3 linked regions of the Homo sapiens genome follow. Changing the gene in region 3 together with the main gene of any one other region gives a genetic interaction. Each region holds a gene or a part of one and is shown on either strand. Other genes may lie near its edges. The genes, in order: PTK6, CKM and CHD1.

What was found.
Region 1: changes in CHD1 (region 3) and PTK6 together harm fitness more than expected from each alone (negative genetic interaction), as found in Homo sapiens cells (one large-scale study listed by BioGRID).
Region 2: changes in CHD1 (region 3) and CKM together harm fitness more than expected from each alone (negative genetic interaction), as found in Homo sapiens cells (one large-scale study listed by BioGRID).

What each region holds. Positions count from the first base shown.
Region 1 is NC_000020.11:63,527,384-63,530,971, reverse strand, and holds the end of PTK6 (protein-tyrosine kinase 6), read left to right. Parts: intron 1-44; coding exon 45-226; intron 227-740; coding exon 741-894; intron 895-1,248; coding exon 1,249-1,436; 3' UTR 1,437-2,971; downstream 2,972-3,588. UniProt on the Homo sapiens protein: Non-receptor tyrosine-protein kinase implicated in the regulation of a variety of signaling pathways that control the differentiation and maintenance of normal epithelia, as well as tumor growth.
Region 2 is NC_000019.10:45,316,352-45,320,001, forward strand, and holds part of CKM (creatine kinase M-type), read right to left. Parts: intron 3,381-3,650; 5' UTR 3,363-3,380; coding exon 3,170-3,362; intron 1,629-3,169; coding exon 1,474-1,628; intron 1-1,473. UniProt on the Homo sapiens protein: Reversibly catalyzes the transfer of phosphate between ATP and various phosphogens (e.g. creatine phosphate).
Region 3 is NC_000005.10:98,922,378-98,926,027, forward strand, and holds part of CHD1 (chromodomain-helicase-DNA-binding protein 1), read right to left. Parts: intron 1-3,650. UniProt on the Homo sapiens protein: ATP-dependent chromatin-remodeling factor which functions as substrate recognition component of the transcription regulatory histone acetylation (HAT) complex SAGA. Regulates polymerase II transcription.

The sequences.
Region 1 (3,588 bases), on a different chromosome or scaffold from region 3:
GCTGGCTCAGCTGACCCCAGGCTCTGCTCCACTCCCCTCTGCAGACTCTGATGAGAAAGTCCTGCCCGTTTCGGAGCTGCTGGACATCGCCTGGCAGGTGGCTGAGGGCATGTGTTACCTGGAGTCGCAGAATTACATCCACCGGGACCTGGCCGCCAGGAACATCCTCGTCGGGGAAAACACCCTCTGCAAAGTTGGGGACTTCGGGTTAGCCAGGCTTATCAAGGTAGGGCCCTCAGAGGGCGTGGCTGGGGTCGTGGCCGGGGCGTGGCCGGAGGGCTGGGGGCTTCCTGTGTGTGGAGCTGGGGACTCGGCTGGGAGCAGGATGCGGCCCCTGCCCTCGGGAGCCCAGGCTGGGCAGGGAGGTGGGAAGCCACCGTGAGTCCGGTGGGGCCCCCATTCTGAATGGCACGCACAGCAGGGCCCACCACGCAGCCGCTGCCTTGTTCACGTGCCTTGTTCACTGGCCCAGCCCTGGGCCCCTCTGACGGCCTGGGAGCCTCCCAGTTCCCTGTCCCCCGGGCCCTCCGGTCCCCACACACCTGCAATCCCAGGGGAAGTTGGGCTCCTGAAGGTGGTCAGGCCCCAGTGTGGCCTTAGCTGCAGCGGCCGTGCGTGGGTCAGACAGTGGGGTCATCACCGTCCCACTGCTGGGGCAATGCGGCCGCTGTGCCCGTCCATGCTTCGGGGGCAGGGCACAGGCAGCCCCCACGGCCCACTCAGCTCCAGGCTGATTGCAGGAGGACGTCTACCTCTCCCATGACCACAATATCCCCTACAAGTGGACGGCCCCTGAAGCGCTCTCCCGAGGCCATTACTCCACCAAATCCGACGTCTGGTCCTTTGGGATTCTCCTGCATGAGATGTTCAGCAGGGGTCAGGTGCCCTACCCAGGTACTGTCCCCACTGTCCCTGACTGGGCATGAGAGGCAGAGTGGGGGAGGTCCTGGGTAGCCGGCAGGGACGCTGGGGGGTGCCTCCCCCACGGGCTTCAGGGCCCTCCGCGGGCCATCGCCTGAACTCCACACCTGCACCATTCTCTGAGCACCCAGGCTGGTGCCTGGAGCTGCCTGTTGGAGCCCTGTCCAGAGGGAGGTGTTAGCAGTGGACAGTGTGCTGGGTGGCGCCAAGGCATGGCAGCTGAGGCTGCGGGGAAGGCCCCAGGAAGGGGCAGTGGATGGCTGGTGTGGCTTCTTGGGGGAGGGTAGGCAGGTGGGCCCCAGCTCTTCTCATCCCTGTCGGCCGCAGGCATGTCCAACCATGAGGCCTTCCTGAGGGTGGACGCCGGCTACCGCATGCCCTGCCCTCTGGAGTGCCCGCCCAGCGTGCACAAGCTGATGCTGACATGCTGGTGCAGGGACCCCGAGCAGAGACCCTGCTTCAAGGCCCTGCGGGAGAGGCTCTCCAGCTTCACCAGCTACGAGAACCCGACCTGAGCTGCTGTGGAGCGGGCATGGCCGGGCCCTGCTGAGGAGGGGCCTGGGCAGAGGGCCTGGACCTGGGATCAAGGCCCACGCGCTTCCCTGGGGTTTACTGAGGTGATGGGTGCAGGAAAGGTTCACAAATGTGGAGTGTCTGCGTCCAATACACGCGTGTGCTCCTCTCCTTACTCCATCGTGTGTGCCTTGGGTCTCAGCTGCTGACACGCAGCCTGCTCTGGAGCCTGCAGATGAGATCCGGGAGACTGACACGAAGCCAGCAGAGGTCAGAGGGGACTCTGACCACAGCCCGCTCTCTGGCTGTCTGTCTGCAGTGCCCGGCTGAGGGTGGGAGGCAAACACGCCTTGTTCCTGCTCTTCCCAGTTCAGCTTGGTGGGAGAAAGTCATTCGCGTGGCTCGGGACGCTCATGTAAATTTGGTTTTGGTGCTCAAGGGTTCTTTCCTCCCAGGGGCAGGTGTTTCTTTCCTGTTTGTCTTGTGTCTTGAGAGCTTGGCCTTATGACCAGTGAGAACTCTCTCCCTGGTCTCTGCCAGCCCAAGCATCACTGCCCGAGGCGCCAGCTCAGTTTCACCGTCCACGTCCACAAGGGGCTTTTCCCACCTTCACCTTTGTCGCTGGGTCAGTGCTGGAAAGCGCCCCTCACTCCTGCGCTGACAAGGGCCCTTCTCTACTGTCTGTGGGGTGGTTCCGGGCTGGGGGGGCTGCCTCCTTTGCACCTGATTTTGAAGGTGTCTCTTTCATCCATGGTTAAGTCATAAAAAGCTTATTGGTTTTGGTTTTGACTCACCTGAAAGTTTTTTTGGTTTAAAAGAAGAATAGGCGGGGCACGGTGGCTCATGCCTGTAATCCCAGCACTTTGGGAGGCTGAGGCAGGTGGATCACGAGGTCAGGAGATCGACACCATCCTGGCTAACACGGTGAAACCCCGTCTCTACTAAAAAATACAAAAAATTAGCTGGGTGTGGTGGTGGGGGTGGGCGCCTGTAGTCCCAGCTACGTGGGAGGCTGAGGCAGCAGACTGGTGTGAACCCGGGAGGTGGAGCTTGCAGTGAGCCGAGATCGCGCCACTGCACTCCAGCCTGGGCGACAGAGCGAGACTCCATCTCAAAAAAAAAAAAAAAAAAAAGAAAGAAAGAAAAATAATTTTGGGAGTTTCTGGAAAGGTACTAGGATTTCTCAAAAGGATTTGTCTTCTGCCTTGTGAAAGACAGATGTCAGACTAATCAGGCTTATCCGATGTGCTACATGAGATGGAAAGCGTGTGAAATAGTAAGTCACACTAAGTCTTCTGGAGGTTCTATTTACGGGTTTGGTTTTGATATGAATGTTGCAGAAACTCTATAAAATTCCTAGAAATCTGATACGTTATCCTATGATATATATCCTATCTCACATGCTATTCCTAGAAATCTGGTGCAATGTTATCAGTCATAATTTTGGTTATTACATTAAAATGCTGCATGCCACAGAAATAACCAAGTTTCCTTGCCAACCGTGTCACGAATATAATAAACTCTCATCAGATCCTGAGCCATGGCTATCTTAAGTCTTCGGTCATTCACAGTTATTATCTTACTTTGATTTTTTCTGAAAGCTTTGCAATCAGCTAGTCCCAAATTGTTTATTCTTCAAAGAGATTCCTGGGAAGGATTCTGACAGGTGCTCTGGAGCACAGGTTTCTGGTTCAGGTCATAGCCTTGGATTGGGTGCAAATTTCCAGAACTCGAAGGAGGGACCTGGCAGGTCCATGAAAGTTCTGTCCCAGGATCAACCAGAACAAGAATTAATGACATGGGAATGAATGAACTGACGAGGATGTTTACTGTTTAATGACTTTTGTCTGAAGCATTACGGTTCTTTAATATTTTGTTTTCCAGATGTAAGAAAACGTTTTTTGTTTCTGTTTTTGTTTTTGAAGACAGGGTCTTGCTCTGTCACCCAGGCTGGAGCGCAGTGGCGTGACCACAGCTCATTGCAGCCTTGAATTCCCAGGCTCAAGTGATCCTCCCGCCTCAGCCTCCTGAATAGTTGGGACTACAGGAATGCACCACCACACCTGGCTAATTTTAAATTTTTTTTTTTTTAGGAGATTCAGGGTCTTGCTATGTTGCCCAGGCTGGTCTCGAACTCCTGGGCTCTAGCAATCC
Region 2 (3,650 bases), on a different chromosome or scaffold from region 3:
CAGGGTGTCACTATGTTGCCCAGGCTGGTCTCAAACTCCTGGGCTCAAACAGTCCTCCTGCCTCAGCCTCCCAACGTGATGGGATTACAGGCATGAGCCACCATGCCTAGCTAAATTTTTAGGCTTTTTTTTTTCTTTTTTTTGGGCAGAGACGGGTTCTTGCTATGTTGCCCAAGCTGGTCGTGAACTCTCCTGGCTTCACGTGATCCTCACACCTCAGCCTCCATAAGTGCTGGGATTACAGGTATAGCCACTGCACCCAGCCTTTCTGCCCATTTCTGTTTCTCTTCCTGTCTCCCTTTCTCCCACTCTCCTTGTCTGTGTCTGACTGCAACTGCGTGTGTCTCTCTCTCCCTGTCTCTCCTGCCTTCTCTGATGCTCCCTTCTGTCTCCCTCTGTGTCTCTGCCTCTCCCCCCACCCTTTTTTTTTTAGGCAGAGTCTCGCTCTGTCACCCAGGCTGAATAGCTAGGATTATAGGTGAACACCAGCATGCCTAGCTAATTTTTGTATTTTTAATAGAGACTGGGTTTCACCGTGTTGGTCAGGCTGGTCTCGAACTCCTGACCTTATGATCCGCCCACCTCAGCCTCCCAAAGTGTTGGGATTACAAGCGTGAGCCACTGTGCCCGGCTATGCCTCTTCCTTTTCTACATGCTTTTGTGCCTTTCTTCTCCCTCTCCCTCTCCTTTGTCTGTCTGTCTCCTTGGTTGTCTGTGTCTCCTTGGCTGTCTCTGTGTCTCTCTGTCCCTCTCTCTTTCCTTTTTTTATTTTCTGAGATAGAATCTTGCTCTGTCACCCAGGCTGGAGTGCAGTGGCATGATCTCAGCTCACTGCAGCCTCCATCTCCTGGGTTCAAGAGATTTTCCTGCCTCCACCTCCTGAGTAGCTGGGATTACAGGCACGCGCCACCATGCCCAGCTAATTTATTTTATTTATTTATTTATTTATTTTTTGAGACGAGTTTCGCCCTTGTTGCCCAGGCTGGAGTGCAATGGCACGATCTCTGCTCACCACAACCTCTGCCTTCCAGGTTCAAGCGATTCTCCTGCCTCAGCCTCCCACGTAGCTGGGATTACAGGCATGTGCCACCACACCCAGCTAATTCTGTATTTTTAGTAGAGACGGGGTTTCACCATGTTGGTCAGGCTGGTCTCAAACTCTCAATCTAAGGTGATCTGCCCGCCTTGGCCTCCCAAAGTGCTGGGATTACAGGCGTGAGCCACCGCCGTGCCCAGCCCTTTTTTTTTTTTTTAAAGACAGAGTTTTGCCATGTTGGCCAGGCTGGTCTTGAACTCCTGACCTCAAGTGATACGCTCGCCTCAGCCTCCCAATGTCCCTCTCTCTTTCCATCTCTCTGCTTCTCCACACCTCTGTGTCTCTCTCTGTCTCTGTATTTCTCTGTCTCCCCCCATTTCTCCTGTGATCTCTCTCCTCCTCACCCCTCGGCCCTCCCCTCCTGCGCAGACACCGACCTTGAGGTTTTCATGGTTGAGGTCAGTCTTGTGCTTGTCAGTGGGTTTGTAGCCCCCGTGGCGATCCGAGATGATGGGGTCAAAGAGTTCCTTGAAAACTTCGTAGGACTCCTCATCACCAGCCACGCAGCCCACGGTCATGATGAAGGGGTGACCTGGAGGGGTGGGGGTGAGGTCAGAGCTGCTTGTCCCCAGCAAACAGGGCGTGGGCTTGTGGGCTCAGTGGAGCCTGTGTGGACATGTGTGTCGGGATGGGGGCGGGTACATTCAATACCTCTGGGTGGGAATTGAGAATCATAAGGGTTGGGCACAGTGGCTCATGCCTGCAATCCCAGCACTTTGGGAGGGTGAGGCGGGTGAATCTCTTGAGGTCAGGAGTGTGAGACCAGCCTGGCCAACAGGGTGAAACCCCATCTCTGCTAAAAATACAAAAATTAGCTGGGTGTGGGGCACACACCTGTAATCCCAGCTACTCAGGAGGCTGAGGCATGAGAATTGCTTGAACCAAGGGAGTGGAGGTTGCAGTGAGCCAAGATCACACCACTGCACTCCAGCCTGGGTGACAGAGCAAGACTCTGTCTCCAAAGGAAAAAAAAAAAAAGAGAGAACACTGAGGACTGGTGGGAACTGGGAGGGAAGGCTGGGAGAGGTCAAGGTGGCTGGGAGGGGTCAAGGTGGGAGAGAAGAAAGAGTGCTGGGGGCGGGGTCAAAGGAGAAAGGGGAGCTTCAGAGGGTACATGGTGCTAAAAGCATCAGCACCTCGGAAACATTAGCACCCAAAGTCATGACATCTTAGCCTGAAATGTTAGGATCTCAGGCTACCACCGTACCACAGAGGGTCAGGAGGGTAAGAGACTTGAAAGACCCTCTTGTTTCCCAGTGGAAAAACAGGGGCCAGGAGAGAGGGGCTTCTCCCCGGCATCACACAGTGAGCTGGATGTGAGGGGCACTAGAGCCTCCCCTCCACTCCCAGCTCTCTTCGCCTTGCAATGTCCTTTGAGAAACAACCATAACATTAATAACATCCCCTGTCAGATTCTTTTTTTTTTTTTTTGAGACAGGGTCTCACTCTGTGGCTGGAGTACAGTGGCGCGATCTCGGCTTACTGCAACCTGCACCTCCCAGGCTCAAGCGATCCTCCCACCGCAGCCTCCTGAGTAGCTTGGACCACAAGCCCTCATCACCACACTTGGCTAATTTTTTTGTATTTTTTGTAGAGACAGGGTCTTGCTATGTTGCTCAGGCTGGTCTCAAACTCCTGGCCTCAAGTGATCCTCCCACCTGGGCCTCCCAAAGTGCTGGGATTACAGGCATGAGCCACTGCACCTGGCCCCCCTGTCAGAGCTTGAGCACTCACTTGGTGCCAGGTGCCACTCTAAGCACTGCACAGCCATTGACTTGTGTTTTCACAACGTGGGCGCCCATTTTTCAGATGAGGAGACTGAGGTTCAGGAGGTGAACCGACCTCCTTGGGGATCTCACATTATTCTCGTGCATGTTTATTGCGTGGTTTGCTGAGTACCTCGCACTGTCCCAAGCCTTTATGTATATTAATGCATTGATTCCCACAACAGCCCCATTTTACAGATGAGAAAACTGAGGCCCCCCCCCCTTCAAGGGTGGTGGGATTGGGGCATGGCCGGCAGCCTCCAGAGCCCCCATGTAGCCCCTTCAGTGCTCCACTGGGGAGGCTCACCTGGGTTGTCCACTCCTGTCTGGATGACATCGTCTACAGTGAAGCCAGATGGAGTCTCCTTGTCCCGCAGCTTCTTGTAGAGTTCAAGGGTCAGTACCTTGGCCATGTGGTTGTTATGTTTGCTGAGGTCGGGGTACTCCTCCTCAGGCTTGTAATTCAGCTTGAACTTGTTGTGGGTGTTACCGAATGGCATGGTGGCGGTGTAGGAGACCTGATGGGCAGGGCAGGAGGGGAAGATTGAAGATTAGCTGGCATCTTTTTTCTTCTTCTTCTTCTTTTTTTTTTTTTGAGACGGAGTCTCGCTCTGTCACCCAGGCTGGAGTGCAGTGGCACGATCTCGGCTCACTGCAAGCTCCACCTCCTGGGTTCACACCATTCTCCCGCCTCAGCCTCCCGAGTAGCTGGGAATACAGGCGCCCGCCACCACGCCGGCTCATTTTTTGTATTTTTAGTAGAGACGGGGTTTCACCATGTTAGCCAG
Region 3 (3,650 bases):
TGTCAGCAATAGCATAGCAAAAGAGACATATTTTTCCTGTGTATTCTTCTTCCTTTCAGTGAATAGTTATAGAGAGATCTCCAGACAGAAAGAATAGTTAAAAATTTTTTTTTTCAGTAGAAAGCTAACTGTAACCTGCAAATGCCAAATGAATTCTTTCTTAATTCTATTCCGTTTAATAAACTTTCACAAAAGAAAAAGGAAATTTTGAAGCAAAAATACATTATAGAATTCTAGCCACTAAAAAACCAAAATTTACTTTAAAAAGCTACTTACAATGAATATCAACTTTAGAAACAAAGTATATTTCTAATCTAATTATATTAGGGGCCAGGCACGGTGGCTCATGCCTGTAATCCCCAGTGCTTTGGGAGGCCAAGGCGGGCAGATCACCTGAGGTCAGGAGTTCGAGACCAGCCTGGCCAACATGACGAAACACCGTCTCTGCTAAAAATACAAAAATTAGCTGGATGCAGTGGTGCATGCCTGTAGTCCCAGCTACTCGGGAGGCTGAGGCAGGAAAATTGCTTGAACTCGGTAGGCGGAGGATGCAGTGAGCCGAGGTCATACCGCTGCACTGCAGCCTGGGCGACAGAGCAAGACTCTGGCTCAAAAAAAAGAAAAAAAATTACTCTATATTAATATTCATAGTTATAGAAACTTTAGTTTTTTTTGCAAGAAAATCCCTCTACCTCTAAAGTTCACCTCCTCAGTCTTTTAACTAGGCACAATCTCCCTTCTTTGTAATGTCTTATGACAAAAGCTTCTGGGGAAGGGAGTGGGAATTGAGTGTTAATGACAGTAGAGCATAGTATAGCAGCGGTAAGAAAGAAAATGAAGGCAAAAAAGAAGGTCTCTCTCCTGATAAACTCCAAGGCAGTTGTAAAAACTAGATAACTTGATAACCACACTTTTCAGAAGCACACAAAACCTGTATAGCAGAATTAACAACTCCGAATAATTAAAGAAATATGCTTTGCAATTATTTAAGATGAGTATGCATTGTAAAAGATTCCTTAAATTTGATTTCGCAAGGTTTAATTTTTTTTTTTTTTTTGAGACGGAGTTTCACTTGTTTCCCAGGCTGGAGTGCAATCGCGCAATCTCCGGCTCACTGCAACCTCCGTCTGCCTCCTGGGTTCAAGCAATTCTCCTGCCTCAGCCTCGCGAGCAGCTGGGATTACAGGCCACCACACCCAGCTCATTTTGTATTTTTGGTAGAGACAGGATTTCTCCATGTTGGTCAAGGTGGTCTCGAACTCCCAACCTCAGGTGATCTGCCTGCTCGGCCTCCCAAAGTGCTGGGATTACAGGCGTAAGCCACCGCACCCGGCCACAAGGTTTAATTTTTTTTCACCTGTAGTATCAAATTGGACTTATTACTCCTCCTCGCTTTAGATATGGCAGAAAAATATATAAAATATTGGAACAGGTAAGTAGTCAGAATATACCAGCACATGATCTGTCTGCATATCCAACTAGAAGATTTACTCTCGAGTCTTATCTCCTATTTTATGAATAGTTTGGTTCCTTTGTTTCCTCTAGGTATTTCTACCTACTAACCATTCCATTCCAACTATGAATAAGAAAATGTGAGGCCGGGTGTGGCAGCTCACACCTGTAATCCCAACACTTTGGGAGGCCAAGGTGGGAGGACTGCTTGAGCCCATGAGTTCAAGACCAGCTGAGGCAATATGGTGAGACCTCATCTCTACAAAAAATTTTAAAATTAGCTGAGTGTGGTGGCATGCACGCCTTTCAGGATGCTGAGGTGGGAGAATCGTTTGAGCCCAGGAGGTGGAGGCAGAGGCTGCAGTGAGCTGAGACTACACAACTGTACTCCAGCCTGGGTGACAGAGTGAGGCCCTGTCTCAAAAGAAAAGAAAAGAAAAAAAAAATTGTGGGTGGACAATATGACTCTTCTATTTACTTAACTATAGTCAGTAGTCAACATACCTATAGAGATTTGAATCAAAGCTCAGATTCAAAAGTCTTTTAATTAAACCTCAACTCTGGTGATTCTAGTAAAACTTTACTGTTTGAAACTTTACGATGCACTTTGTAATTAATTAAAATGAAACTTCAATATCAGTTCAATCCTTAGAGTTGAGGCAATCATATGAGTTTTAATTAATGCAGAGATAGCATCAACTCAGGTTGTATAACTCCTAGACCAATACTTGTTCAAGTAATAATGCTGCTTTCCATAACTGTTCCTTATTTTATTCTCTATGATGTTCTTGCTTATCCAAACAGTATGTATGAAAGCTGATAAACTAAAGTATAACTAGCAAGGTCAGAAAATTCCAAGTGTCAGGCCTGGCGTGGTGGCTCATGCCTATAATCTCAGCACTTTGGGAGCTCGAGGCAGGTGGATCACTTGAGGCCAGGAGTTCGAGACCAGCCTGGCCAATGTGGCGAAACCCCATCTCTACAAAAAAAATACAAAAATTAGCTGGGAGTGGTGGCTAGCGCCTGTAATCCCAGCTACTCCGGAGGCTGAGGTAGGAGAAACACTTGAGCCTGGGAGGTGGAGGTTGCAGTGAGCCGGGATCACACCACTGCACTCCAGCCTGGGCGACAGAGCAAGACTCTGTCTCAAAAAAAAAAAAAGAAAAAGAAAAGTCCAAGTTTCAGATCAAATACAAATACCACTATTTAGTTTTCTATCTAACATTTTTTCTTAATCTTCCTAATTGCCAAAACTTTCCTGTTTCTTGTCCACCCCCATGTCTCCATCACTGTAATTAATGTTTTTTTTATATAGTATCCTGTGTTACACAAAACATGCTGGTTACAATAAGCAAATATTCAGTGCTCATTATCTCAGAAAATATTTTAAGCCCTTTACATGAAGCATCTCAATCCTCAAATTTTTTTTAAATTTTATTTTTTATAAATTACAGACAAAGTCTCACTATGCTGCCTAAACTGGTCTCCAACTTTTGAGTTCAAGTGATCCTCCTTCCTCAGCCTCTCAAAGTGCTGGGATTACAAACAGGATCCAACAAGCCCAGCCGTGAACTTTAAATAAGATAAACAATAGTTTAATCCCCTCTTTATGGGGCAAAAATCAGAGCCTCAGAGATTAAGTAATTTGCCCTAATTCACACAACTAATAAGAGGTAGAAATAGGGTAAGCAAACAGTTTGACTCCAGTGCCCACATTCCTAATTTCTATATATGATAATGCATATAACTACATGGATTGTAAACTAATGTGCAGATAACTCAAAATTTGAGAGCTACAGAATTTAAAGAATCTTCTTTGCAAACACTTGACCCAAGCAAGAACTCTTAACTCCTTCACAGATAATTAAAACTCCAATCTGAAAATAAAAAAGGGCCACAGTAATATTTCAACAAATGTCTGGCTCAGCACTGTCTAAAACTTTCTCCAGTGATAGAATGTTTTCTATGTGCTGTCCAATATGGTAGCCACTAGCCACATGTGATTATTCAGCACTTGAAATATATCTAGTATGACTAAGTAAATTCTGAATATTTTGTAATTGAGTTCAAATAGCCACATGTGGCTAGTGGTTACCACACTGGACAGTACAGGTATAGAAGACAAAATGCCAGAAAAAGATGAGTGAAAAAATTTTTATTGCCTTCATCTAGAAATTTCACTAACAGTCAAAACAATT